Regions from separate parts of the Homo sapiens genome. Here all the other regions are linked to region 1. Evidence: fine-mapped expression QTL. A gene starts in region 1. Each other region holds a variant in brackets. All regions are shown on one strand. Distances are between the middles of the regions. Region 1 holds the start of CTNNA1 (catenin alpha 1). Region 2 overlaps CTNNA1 (catenin alpha 1). Region 3 overlaps CTNNA1 (catenin alpha 1).

The links. PIP is the estimated chance that this variant, and not a neighbour inherited with it, causes the effect. A credible set is the group of variants that fine-mapping cannot tell apart.
Region 2: its variant is the best candidate, but not a certain one, in a credible set for the expression of CTNNA1 in monocytes after triphosphate RNA (Kim-Hellmuth 2017, PIP 0.80).
Region 3: its variant is the best candidate, but not a certain one, in a credible set for the expression of CTNNA1 in CD4 T cells (BLUEPRINT, PIP 0.75).

What each region holds. Positions count from the first base shown.
Region 1 is chr5:138,751,470-138,755,708 of GRCh38, reverse strand. CTNNA1 (catenin alpha 1) reads right to left here and starts at 2,284. Exons shown (of 18, transcript NM_001903.5): 1 at 2,199-2,284. CTNNA1-AS1 (CTNNA1 antisense RNA 1) reads left to right here and starts at 1,785. Exons shown (of 2, transcript NR_134244.1): 1 at 1,785-2,186. RefSeq lists enhancers at 1,117-1,683, 1,684-2,251 and a silencer at 1,955-2,394.
Region 2 is chr5:138,856,257-138,860,495 of GRCh38, reverse strand. All of the region lies in intron 7 of CTNNA1 (catenin alpha 1), which reads right to left. Among named protein-coding and RNA genes, the nearest start is that of LRRTM2, 17 kb to the left of the region's middle. The variant A/GAAAAA (reference allele first, on the strand shown) is at 1,901.
Region 3 is chr5:138,934,964-138,939,202 of GRCh38, reverse strand. CTNNA1 (catenin alpha 1) reads right to left here. Exons shown (of 18, transcript NM_001903.5): 18 at 4,169-4,239. Among named protein-coding and RNA genes, the nearest start is that of LRRTM2, 62 kb to the right of the region's middle. The variant TTA/A (reference allele first, on the strand shown) is at 2,184.

The sequences.
Region 1 (4,239 bases):
ACAGGTGACCATGTGGGTCAGGAGACACACCTGCACTCAAAGGCTTGGACTTTTAGCACATAAGGCTGATGACAGAAGAGACTGCACAGAGCAGTGATTCTCATCTTGGAGGAGGGTACCTCTCATCTCTAAGTCACTATATGAAATGAGATATCACTGATGGGAGTGAAGGTGATGCCACATCAGTGGTGTGGAGGACAAAGATACTTTGGAAAGAACCCTGGGTACGAGAGGAAAGAGTGAGGGCGAGGAAAAGAAAGAAACTGAGATGAGTCAAAAGGAAAAGAAAACCAGGAGAGTGATATCACAATTCCCCAAACTCCTATGCCCTTTTATGCTTCTCATGACTTTCTCCCTTCACTTAAAAAAAACTCGACTCATGTTTCATCCAGATCAAATGCCACCACCTCCTGAAAGCCTTTCTGGACTTACCCAAGTAAAACTTATTAGCCCCCTCTCCGTGCCTCTACAAGTTTCTTTTGTTGTTACTATTAGGTAAGATTTGACTCAGACAATAGTTTCATTAGTACTGTTAAGGCACTTACTGCAGTCCGCTCTGTACTACACCTGGGGTGTGTGTCTCCCCTATTACACTGTGAGCTCTTAGGTGGATTAAAAAATTATTCTTTCGCTGAATAAATATCCAGATGGGGTCAGGCACCCTGGCTCAGGCCTGTAATCACAACACTTTGGGAGGCTGAGGCAGGAGGACCACTTGAGCCCAGGAGTTCGAGACCAGCTTGGGCAAGACAGCGAGACACCATCTCTACCAAAAATACAAAAATTAGACGGATGTGGTGGCGCGTGCCTGTAGTCCCAACTACTTCGGAAGCCGAGGTGGGGGGATCACTTGAGCCCAGGAGACAGAAGCCGCAGTGAGTCATGATCGTGTCACTGCGCTCCAGCCCGGGCGACGGAGACCCCGTCTTTAAAAAAAATGTTTGTTCAAAAGTCCAGATTGGTAAATAATTAGGCAGAAACTATAGGTAACTCCTACACTCATTCTTCATTCTTCCTGTAAAACAAAATAACACATCCTAATTAATTCGATTTATAAATTCCGTTCCTTAAAGTAACACCCACCTGTCCAGTATTTAAAAATCACTGCTGACTAAACACAAATATTCGCTCCACAAAATGCCTATCCTGTCCCAACAATGATGTAAGCATTTCCTTCATCATAAATATAAAATGCCCCGAATTTAGTCGTAGACTTGACATATCTCGCTCTTTTCCAAATAATTGTAAATTCTGTACAAAACACACGCACCAAAAAAATGTCACCAAGATGCAAGAGGACGTAAGAGGGAGTCAACCTTGGAACTGGGCCAACCGCCGCCTGCATTACTGGGAAGCCACTGCTGCCAAGCAAAGGTCAGGCATTCATTCAGGCAACATTTTTTCCAACAAGTGCTTCACACTCGCACGCACACACACGCTCCTTTAAAAGTCAACAACAATTAAAAAAAAAAAAAAACCTCTCTAATGCCACTCCTGAAAACTAGGGCTGAAAGCTAAGTGCGTCCAACCGACAAGAAACCCAGGAAAGCTGAGTAATCCCCGAGTCCAAGTGGACGGTCACGCCAAAAGTCCACACGGGTGTGGCCCACCTACGGCGAAGCTGTATGGGAGAAGCCCGGGCTCCAGCCTCCCGGTTCGCCGAGCCCGCGTCCCCGCCGCCCCATCGGGAAGTCTCAGCGGCCGGGAAGGGGGAGGGGGCAGGAACGCCTCGGAGCCGGACGACAATCACTTCCCGGGAAAGCGGCTCCCAGACAAGCCGCCCCAGGGAAGGAAGGCGGCCGAGGGGCCCGGCGCGGGGCTGCCGCGCGCGCCGAGGCCGCGGTAACAAAGTTTGGAAACCGCGAGAAAACTTTTCCAAGAGGAAACGCGGCGGCGGCGCTGGGCCTATAGTTTCTCCTCCCCAGCCCAGGCGGCCCCCCGACTTCCCGAGCGCTGGGAAGCGCCGGCCGTGCCCGCCCGGGCCCCATACTCGGGCCCTGCGGGGGAAGGGACCGCCGGCCCGACGCGGGTCCCACGCCCGCCCGGGGCCCAATTCCCGGCGACGTCGCCAAAGAAACCGCGCCCCGCCCGCTCGCCCGCCCGCGGCTCGCGGGGCCCAGCTTGGGACGGCCCGGCCCAAGGACCCTCTCGGCCTGGCCCGAGAGACCGCGCCCGCGAGGAGGGAGGTACGAAGTTACCTGCGGCTAGCTGGGCGAGCGCTAAATTCCAGAGGCCCGAAGCAGACGGGCGCTGCTTTGTCTCCCTCCAGTCCGGCTAGGAGGAGGAAATGGGCCGCCCCACGCCCCCGCCCCCGGCCCGCCCCCCGCCCGCGGCCCCCGCCCCTGTCCCGGCCCCGCCCGCCCTTCCTGGCACCTCCCTCCGACTCGCTCTTCCCGGCGCCTCCCGCCGCCGCCCCGCCCGCTCCTCCCGGCCGTTCCGGCCTCCGCTTTTGGGGAAAGGGAAGGCCCCCACCGCGAAGAGAGTCTGGCAACGCCGGACCGGGACCCCCGAGGGACCTCTTCCTCCCCGCCGCCCACCTCAGAATTCCTTCCTCCCCGGCCCCTAGTGGGAGCTTAGGCCGGGAGTGACCCCTGAGAGGGAGGAGGAGCGGTGACTCCTGGAACAGCCCGCGGGCGGAGAGGGCTGCGCGAGGGCAGGTGAGTCACCGCTCCGCGCACAGGTGAGGCTCAGGGGCGGCCTCGCGCGGGCCCCCACCCCGGCGGAATCCCAGAGACGCGACCAGGGGTACTGGGCACGCTCCCCTCAAGAGTGTCACAGGTGTCCCGGAGTCACAGTCTTCTGGAAAAGTGATCTAGGCCAACTACCTGGCTTTACAGAAGGAGAAGCGGAGGCTAAGGAAAGGCCCCACAGCTTCGGGACACAGTGGAACTAGAATCTGACTCTCAGGACCTTTCATAATGTGAGGTGGAAGCGCCCCTAGAATTCACCTAACCCGTCCCCTCACTCCACAGATGGAAACACCCGAAGCCCTCTTGATCAAGGACTTTTTTTTTTTTTTAAGACGGGGTCTCCCTCTGTCGCCCAGGCTGGGGTGGAGTGTCGCGATCACGGCCCACTGCAGCCTCAAATCCCTGGACAACCGACCCTCCCACCTCAGCCTCCGGAGTAGCTGGAACTACAGACACAGAGTCTCACTATGTTGCCAGGCTGGTCTCAAACTCATGGGCTCAAGAAATCCTCCTCAGCCTCCCAAAGTGCTGGGATTACAGGCTAGAGCCACCTTGCGGGGAGGACATTTACAAACACAAAAGAGGCACCGCAGCAGCTGTCCCTTTTTGGGCTTGTTCCCGCCCCGCCCCCAGCACGTCCCCCCTCCCAGCTTGTCCCCCTCCTCCAACAAATTTGAGGGACCTGACTTCTATCTCTATTCCTCTGGTCATTTGGGGCATTTTATTCTTACCCTTTCTTATCTTCATAGTGAATACTCCAAAAACAAAAGAAAACAAAATTACAAAGCAAACAAACAACACAAAAAAACAAAAACTACTACATGCTCACTATCATCCTGGTATAGAAAACCCTAATGATGTTTCCCCTGCTCACGGGATGATGAATAAGATAGATTTCAGTATTGGCCTATAAACCTGAATAATGCAAGACGACGATGTCCACTGCTGGCCTTGTGCTGAATAGAGAGCAGGGTGCTAGGGAGACCTGCCCTTACCGTGTTTACCCTCTACTCCTCACATCTCCCTCTCCCCCAAGGGAATATAAACTTCTGGAAAGCAGGAGCTGTATCTCCTGCAGCACCCAGCACATTGCCCATCCCCTAGGGAGTGCCTAGTGAACATCTGTGGGTGAATGTGCCCACTGTAATTCAAAGTACTGTGGGCCTGTGCTAGTTAACAGATGCTGACAAAGGGCAATAGGACCATGAAGTGGGGAGAGAACAACCTTTAAGAAAAAGAGGATGGGCACAGTGGCTCACACAAGTAATCCCAGCACTTTGGGAGGCCAAGATGGGTGGATCACATGAGCTCAGGAGACCAGCCTGGGCAAAATGATAGAACCCTTGTCTACAAAAAAATACAAAAACATAGCTGGGTGTAGTGGCACCTACCTGTAGTCCCAGCTACTTGGGAGGCTGAGGTGGGAGGATCGCTTGAGCCTGGGAGTTCAAGGCTGCAGTGAACCATGACTGCACCACTGCACTCCAGCCTGGGCAACACAGTGAGACTCTGTCTCAAAAAGAAAAAGAAAAAGGCAAACCCTGACAAG
Region 2 (4,239 bases), 100 kb before region 1:
AAAAAAAACCAAACCCTGCCAGTCTAAGATTTGTCTATTATTCCACATGAAAATCTAACAGCAGGTGGTCAGGAATTTTCTTAGTTTTGATGCAGCATTCCTAAAGTGTCAAAAAAAATTACAGTGCATAAGTGGTACCATTTAGACACTCAATTTGTGCTTGCTTTGAATTAGATGTGTGTTGAATCAGATAGATTATGAAGAACAGGACAAACTATAAACGGTTTATCTGAAGTTCAGCTGACACTCCCACCAAATCCATTACCCTAATTTATAACTAGAATTATTAAACAAATATATTTCCAGTAAAAACATAAATCACTGGCTTTCCAAAAACAATAATCAGTATTTTGATTTATTCATCAATTATTTCAGTATCAGAGGTACCACATTGGAAAATAATATTTTTAAGATCTCACCTTTCAAATATTTTATATCAATCTTTAAACACACACACACAATCTTTAAACACACACACACACGCATGCACACGCACACCACACCCCGCCCTCAGTTTAAATTGAGAAGGGAGTCTGGGGATTAGATATACTTATGAAAGGTTAGACTTCTGTTTTTTGTTTAGTTGTTGAGACTGGGTCTTGCTCTGTTGCCCAGACTGGAATGCAGAGTTGCAGTTTTGGCTTTCTGCAACCTCTGCCTCCTGGGCTCAAGCGATTCTCCCACCTCAGCCTCCCAAGTAGCTGCGACTACAGGTGCATGGCACCACACCTGCCTAATTTTTGTATTTATTGTAGAGATGGGGTTTTGCCATGTTGCCCAGGCTGGTCTCAAACTCCTGGGCTCAAGCGACCCTAAAGTGCTGGGATTACAGGCGTGAGCCACTGCTCTGAGCCCTGTTATTTGTAACTAGCATTTTAACTAACTGAATACCAAGAAAAGATTAAGAAGACTATTAAGTGGAACACATTAGGAAAGTGGGGGATGCAGAACAATTAAGATTCAATATATGACATGTTAAAGTTAGAATGTTTATTAGTCGTCCAAGTAGAGATGACAAGTCCAGGGGAATGGTCCAGGCTGGAAACATAAATTTAGAAGTCATCATCCGTGAATACAGGTATTTAAAGTCACTAGCCTAGATGAGATCACCAAGGGAATGGGTGTAGATGGGAGATGAGACTCACAGAACCATCCTTTCCTCCTAAACCAGTCTGAGAAATCTTTAAACAATACCTGTAAAATGGCAGTCACGGAAAAAAAAGGATAGGTTTCAAGGGAAGCATTCCCTCAACATCAAAGCCACTTGAACAAGTCATGTGCTATTGGAAAACAAATAGGAATATGGTCAGCTTAATTCATGAAAATGACTGGAAACGACATATCAAAGGAATTTTTAATCAATGAAGAATACACATGTATACCATTTAGGAATTCAGAATGATGACTACAATAACAAGCCCATCAATCATACTATGCTCCATGCCAAGTAAGCTGGCAAATAAGCTGGAGATGGCCCTGTTCTCAAGTCAATGTAATAAACTGAAGAACCAATGAAAGTTCACGAACAATCAGAAAAGCAGGGGTTAATTCTGAGGGGCATGTAGAACTCATGTACTTGAACTACAAGAGAGCCAAAGGCTGGGCCCAGTGGCTCACGCCTGTAATCCCAGCACCCTGGGAGGCCGAGGCAGGCGGATCACTTGAGGTCAGGAGTTCAGACCAACAATGGCCAAAGTGGTGAAACCCTGTCTCTACTAAAAATACAAACAAAATTAGCTGGGCGTGGTGGCAGGTGCCTGTAATCCCAGCTACTTGGGAGGCTGAGACAGGAGAATTGCTTGAATGCGGGAGGCGGAGGTTGCAGTGAGCCAAGATCATGCCACTGCACTCCAGCCTGGGTGACAGAATAAGACTCTGTCTCAAAAAAAAAAAAAAAAAA[A/GAAAAA]GAAAAAGAAAAAGAAAAAAAAGCCAAATATTCAACTAAAAGGGTATTACATAATTTTATCTTGATAGAGGCTTGGGTTACAAGGTATGTGCCTTTATCGAAATTCACCAATAGCACACTTAAGATTTGTACATTTCAGTATGTATAAAACTTACCTTTAAAAATACTGGGACAGGCGCAGGAGCTCATACCTATAATCCTAGCACTTTGGGAAGCCAAGGTGGGAGGATCACTCGAGCCCAGGAGTTCAAGATCAGCCTGGGCAACATGGCAAGACCCTGTCTCTATAAAAAATAAAAAAATTAACCAGGTATGGTGGTGCATACCCGTGCTGCTAGCTACTCAGGAGGCTGAGGTGGGAGGACTGCTGGAGCCCACGAGTTCAAGGCTATAGTGAGCAGTGTTAACATCACTGCATTTCAGCCTGGGCAACAGAGCAAGAACCTGTCTCAAAAAAAAAAAAAAAATTTTTTTTAACTCTAATTAATGACACATATGGGACAGTGTTTAGAGGTGAATGTACAAGTGTCTGCAACTGAATTTGAAATGCATCAAAACAGTAAGATGGATACAGGGATGGCTAAATATGTCTCAAAGGAAATATTTAAACATTTAATAGAATCTAAGAAGTGGATTCATATGTGGGTGGTTCACTGTATAATTCTTTCAGCTTCCCTACATGCGTAATTTTCAAAATAAAATGTCTGAAAGGGAATTACAATTGTAAGTTATGGTACTGTCAATCTAATATACTATTAATTTCAACTAGTCCTTACAGTGTTGCACAGTGGTTAAGGGCTCAAATTCTGGAGCCAGGCTGGGTTCAAAGTATAGCACCTCTACTTACTAGCTATGGGACCTTGTATAAATCATTTAACCTTTATGCATTAACAGTACCATGCTTCATGCTTTGATGGTTAAATACAAATGGACAGTGCCACTAATATTACTGATATTTAGAAAATAGGAAGGCACTTAAGAATGCAGTGGTAGGCTCACATCTGTAATGCCAGTACTTTGGGAGGCCGAGGTGGGAGGACTGCTTGAGGCCAGGAGTTGGAGACCACCCTGGGCAGCATAGCAAGACCCCATCTCTATTTAAAAAAATTTTTTTTTTTAACGAATGCAGTGGATAAATGAGCTTTGAGCTTGGTACAAAAGGAACAGCAGGATTTCAATATGGCTGGGTACAGAGAAGGCCAGAGCCAGTAATCTGAGACATGATGCCCATTAATAGTGAAGTTACTCTGGGCTTGGCCAAAGTAGGACCAAATAACAAGAAGCCTCTGGGGCTAGGAAGGGAGCTTAGATTTAACATGGTTGACAAGAGCAGTCACTCCAGATTTCTGAAGACGGCTAGGATATGATGACCAAAGCAGTGACTTAGAGAGATGTATTCTGGCAATTTTTCTTGTTTTGCAGAGAAAAATCTGTAACTTCCACTATTAGAAAAAGGCTGTTAAGGGAGATAAAGAAAAAAGGAAAGAAATTTATTTAAAGGGCAGGCAAAGGGTAAGAACCAATGGTCAGGTGAAAAAGAACATGACTCCCTCCAAGAGAAATGGGCAGCAGACTGGGGCATGAGGGAAAAACATGAGAGAAATCATTCATTCACCAGAATGTACTAAAGACAGCCTTGGAGTTCCCATGACAACTTTCAAGTGTTCATTATTAATCTCTAGTCTAAAACTATTTTCTGAAAAGATACACAATTTCTCTCTAAAATACTTCCATATTTACAACTTTCTTTTCAAATCTCAATAAGGATTTCATCTCATGAATTAGGCACAGAAAGGTCCAGTTTCTACCTTGTAGTAGAGGGAAACACTCTTGCTTGAGTCCAATTTACCCTAGTAAAATCCACCCTTCTGCCAATCTTAGTCATGTACTCTTAAAAGCTTTAAACAATAATTTCTAGCTCCCTAACATGGTGCAAATATTAAACAGAAATGCAGGCCAGGCACAGTGGCTCCTGTCTGTAATACCAGCCCTTTGGGAGTCCAACACAGGAGGATCATTTGAGGCCAGGAGTTTGAGACCAGCCTGGGCAACACGACGAGACCCCATTATTACAAAGAATTTAAAAATTAGCCGAGTGTGGTAACACACACCTGTAGTCCCAGCTACTTGGGTGGTGAGGTGGGAGATCACTTGAGCCTGGGAGTTTAAAACTTTGGTAAGCTATGATCACGGCCACTACACTCCAGCCTAGGTAACAGAGTGAGACCCTGTCTGTTTTATTCTTTAAAAAAAAGGAAAAGAAAGAAATGCACCATCACAGTGTAGTGACAATGTTAATTTTACTCCCTCACACACTACAAAAGAGTATCTTATTATAA
Region 3 (4,239 bases), 180 kb before region 1:
GTGACTGTTCCATCTTCCTTGTGGTGGTGGTTACAGGACTGCGTTTGTCAAAACTCATGGAATTACACACCAGAAAGAGCAGATTTCACTGTGTGTAAATTTTCACCTAAGTTATAATAGCAACTCATCCTTTCCTAATGACATTTTACCACAATCGGTCCAATTGTCTGGGTGATAGAAGGATGCATCACGGCGCGCTCCTGGGCTTCTCTAACCAACTCCACGTTTTCGCACTGCCAGCCCGTGGCTCGAAATCTGATGTGGTGGGAGCATTTACCCATGGAAATTGGGAAACGCTACAGATCAAAGGTGAATTTGTTATGTTAATAATGCCAATTAAATGTAAATGTGTGTTATCTATAGCAGTTACATCGTCAGTAGCACAAAAAAAAATGGAAGAAATTGTCAAAGTAGTTAACAACTATTATCTGACTCAGCAAGGAAGTCACTCACTGACAAAGTGAAAGTCCAACATAGGTTTTTGTTGTTTCACTTTCATTTATTCCTTAAGGTAAACACAAATATCAAGCAGCATTCCTGTTGGAACTAGTCTCGTTTGTCAGTTACAACCATAGGTTGGCCGTGGATGCAAGAGTCTGGCAAAAATCAATGAAAGCCTTCTGTGGGAATCAGCTGGCTGGCTGGGATTCCCAGTTAGAGTCCTGTACGTCTCCTTTTGTGAATGGTGTGCTGCAATTCCTTTATAGCGGTCCCGTGTTTTCTAAATGCACAGATGTGCATCTGTTCGCATCCTCCCTGGCCTGGCCCTAGAGAGCCGGTGGCTCAACATTGACCAGCAAGCCCCTGCTGGGTGTCACTGAACATGGAGAGGAGGCTCCAGATGGGAGCCCTGGAGCACCTCAATGTCAGGGGCCACGAGGAGAAGGAGCTGGTAAGGGAGACGAGGGACACGCATTGGTGACGGGCAGGGAACCGTGGGAATCGACAAGGTGTGAGAGGGAGGGAGTGGCCACTGGCATCACCATTACTCAGAGGGTCCAGGAGGGATGGCCCAAAGCTGGGGGCCCTGGAGGAAGTGCCTCTCAAAGCCGGGTGGCGGGGCCAGCCACTTGCCGCAGTGTGACTTCACCTCCCCTAGTCACTTCTTCAGCTGTGCAGCTGGAGATGCAGCAATGGCACTGACATCTCGGGTCGCACAGATGAAATGGGGTGACGAGAGTAAAGGCTGGACACAGGCTCTGAGGTGCCCAGCACGTGGCAGCTCCTTCTCTCTTGCTTCCGTGGGGAGGGGAGGAGGCCTTGTCCTGGGAGGAGGGTGGAAGAGGTTGGGGCTGGAAGCTGTGAGGATGAAGGCTGCAGAGTGAACTGTGGCCTTTGAAGGTGTTGCACAGGAGACACGGGAACCCCTGCAGGGCACTAAGCAGGCAGGGACCAGGACAGAGCCATCCTGGGAGAGGCATGGGTGCTGCTAGCCACAGGAGAGCAGGGGCTGTGTGCTGAGTGCAGGGAGTAGGGAGCAGGTCTGAGGGGTCACCAACGCAGGGTGACAGGCTGGGGAGGCACAGTGGGGTGGAGGGATCTGGGACTCGGCTTTGGTCCTTGGCTCTGTTCCCCCAACCCTCCTCTGATGAGGCATCAACAAGACTGCTGAGAGCAGGGGCCCGTCCTGGATGCGAAATCTCGGGATGCAGAGGGGAGGCAGTCCCCTTTGCAGATGGCACAGGGGCAGGAGCGAGCATAAAGGAGGCTGCAGGAAGGCCCCAAAGGCCCCGCACGCACAGGCAGTTCCCCTCCTGCTTGGCCCAGCTCTGTCGTGGTCTGTGAGGTGAGAGGAGGGGTCAGGACTTCGGGGCAGGGCCTCTGAGCCTCAGCCTCGGCTCTCCAGGCCCCTGGTGCCTTCTCATTTGCCAGCTTTTTGCCCTCTAACACCTTCTGATGGGTTGGTTTAAATCAATAATGGTCCACATTGTTCAACTACTATCTATCGAGCACATGCCAACAAGCCCTTTGCCTCTGATGAGGATGAGCAGAGCCAACACTGGCTATTCCCCATAGGTCAGTCCAGTGAGGGCTGGTGCCTGCGGTGCTGTGAGCCTTGGCAGAGGATGGAGGAGCCCAGGGAGCAAGGGATGGTGTGGGCTGCTTTCCCACTGAGGCACAAGGGAAGATGTTAAGAGATACATAAATGGACATTGGACTTTTTTTTTTTTTTTTTTTTTTTT[TTA/A]AGAGAGACAAAGTTTTGCCATGTTGCCCAGGCAGGTCCTGAACTCCTGGGCTCAAGCGATCCTCCCACCTCGGCCTTCCCGAGTGCTGGGACTACAGGCATGAGCCACCACACTTAGCCTGTCGGAGTCCTTTTGATAATAAGGTGACTTGAGGAGACAGGAAGGAAACACTAAAGCCAGCACAGGGTGTCCCGGGGCAAGTGCATTCCAGGCCAGGAAGCATACGAGGCAGGATGTGCTCGGCATGTTCAAGACTTCAGGGACACCAGGGGCAGATGGAGGATGGCAGAGAATGGTGAGAGGAGGCCAGAGCAGGCAAGAGGCCTTTAGGACTCTGGCTTTTACTGAGGGACATGGACGCCGTTGGAAGGTCTGAGCTCGGAATGACCTGAGCTGACCTGTCTTACAGGGACAACTTGTCTGTGGGGGACACTGGCAGGGAGGCTGGCTGTGGCCACCCACCGCCGGGCACTGGCAACCTCGTCCTTGCCTTCCACAGTGGACCGGCCTTGGTCTGTGTGACCCACAGAATACAGACATGATGGGGAATCACCCTCCATATCAGGTTTTAAGGGAACACCATGGCTTCCATCTGGACGCTGCTCGCAGATACCGCTCTGGGGAAGCCAGCTACTACCAAGCTGTGAGCTGCTCTGTGGAACGGGCCATGTGGCATGGAACTGAGGCCTTCTGTCAATAGCCACGCGAGTGAGTCTGGAAGCAAATCCTCGCCAGGTCAAGCCTTCAGAGACGGCAGCCTTAGCTGGCATCTTGGCCACTTCATGAGACCCCGAGTCACAGCCATCCAGCTGAGCTGCTCCCAGATTCTTGACCTTCAGGAGCCGTGTGAGGTCGCTTTGGCTGCAACTTGCTACACAGCAGTAACAGCAGGATGGCTTAGGCCAGGCGGTAACAGGTAAATTGTGCATACATTTTAAAGATCAGAATTTTGATTTGTCACTAGAAGCCCATTGTGCTACAGATCCACCTCAGAATTTTTATTTTTAGGCATTTGGCAAGAGGAAGGGGGGGAGGGGCAGTGACGTGGGGAAAACGGTATGGAGGGTGTGGGGGTGGGCGGTGGCGAGTAGAGGTGGCAAGCAGTTTGGACAGGTCAAGTCTGAGAGATTCATTAGACATCCGAATGGAGCGTGAGGCGGCAGTCAGTTATAAAAGCCAGGCTCTGGGGAGAAGAAGTCGGCATTTGGATGTCTTTACATGCGAGATTCTGGCTGAGCTCAGGAGAGTGGGCACAGACACAACCTCTCAGCCCCAGGAAAGGAGAAGGAGCCCCCAGTAAGGCAGGCAGAACCTGAGCGGGGTGTCCTGGAAGCCGAGTGAGCAGCGTTCAGGAGTCCTTGTCCTCCTCCTCCTCCCCGCCACGCCCCCAGGCCGCTTGCACAGTGAGGTCTCAAGACAATTGCCAGTGTGGCTGGCAGTGGAAGGCAGTCACCTTGACGAGGGGAGGTGGAGGGAGCAAGGTGACAGCTGACTGTAAGTGAGGAAGGGGAGAAAATGTCAACAAGCTTCTCTTTAGGGAACCTTGCTTAGGGTGGGGATGCCAGCTGGGAAGGATCATGGGGTTAAGGATGGTTTTCATCTCGAAGGCCACTATCAATCAATCATCATAGCTTGGTATGTATGTGTGACGGGAAGGATGCAGAAGGGATATGCTGACAGAAGGACGCAGGAGAGGGGTCAGCTATAATGAAGACAGGGATGCCTCCGAGGTTGACATGAACCTCAAGGAATGGACATGTGAATTCCCAAGGTGGGGGTGCAGGGTGGGGCACTCAATAGGACAACGGGCATGGCCCTCCCTGATGGGTTGGCACGAGCCGTGCAGCCTAGAGCCACAGACAGTTTCCCTCCCGGGCATCCCCATCCTGGAAGAGACGGACACCGGGAGGGCCCAGAGCACCACAGATACTGCGGGCAAATCTATGACTTGAAGGCAGAGAAGACGACTTTGGGCTCTTGGATGTCGTGGTTTCATAGTGGACTTTATTGGGAAAAGTTAGTTAGTGTAAAAAACATTCAAATTAATTCATAA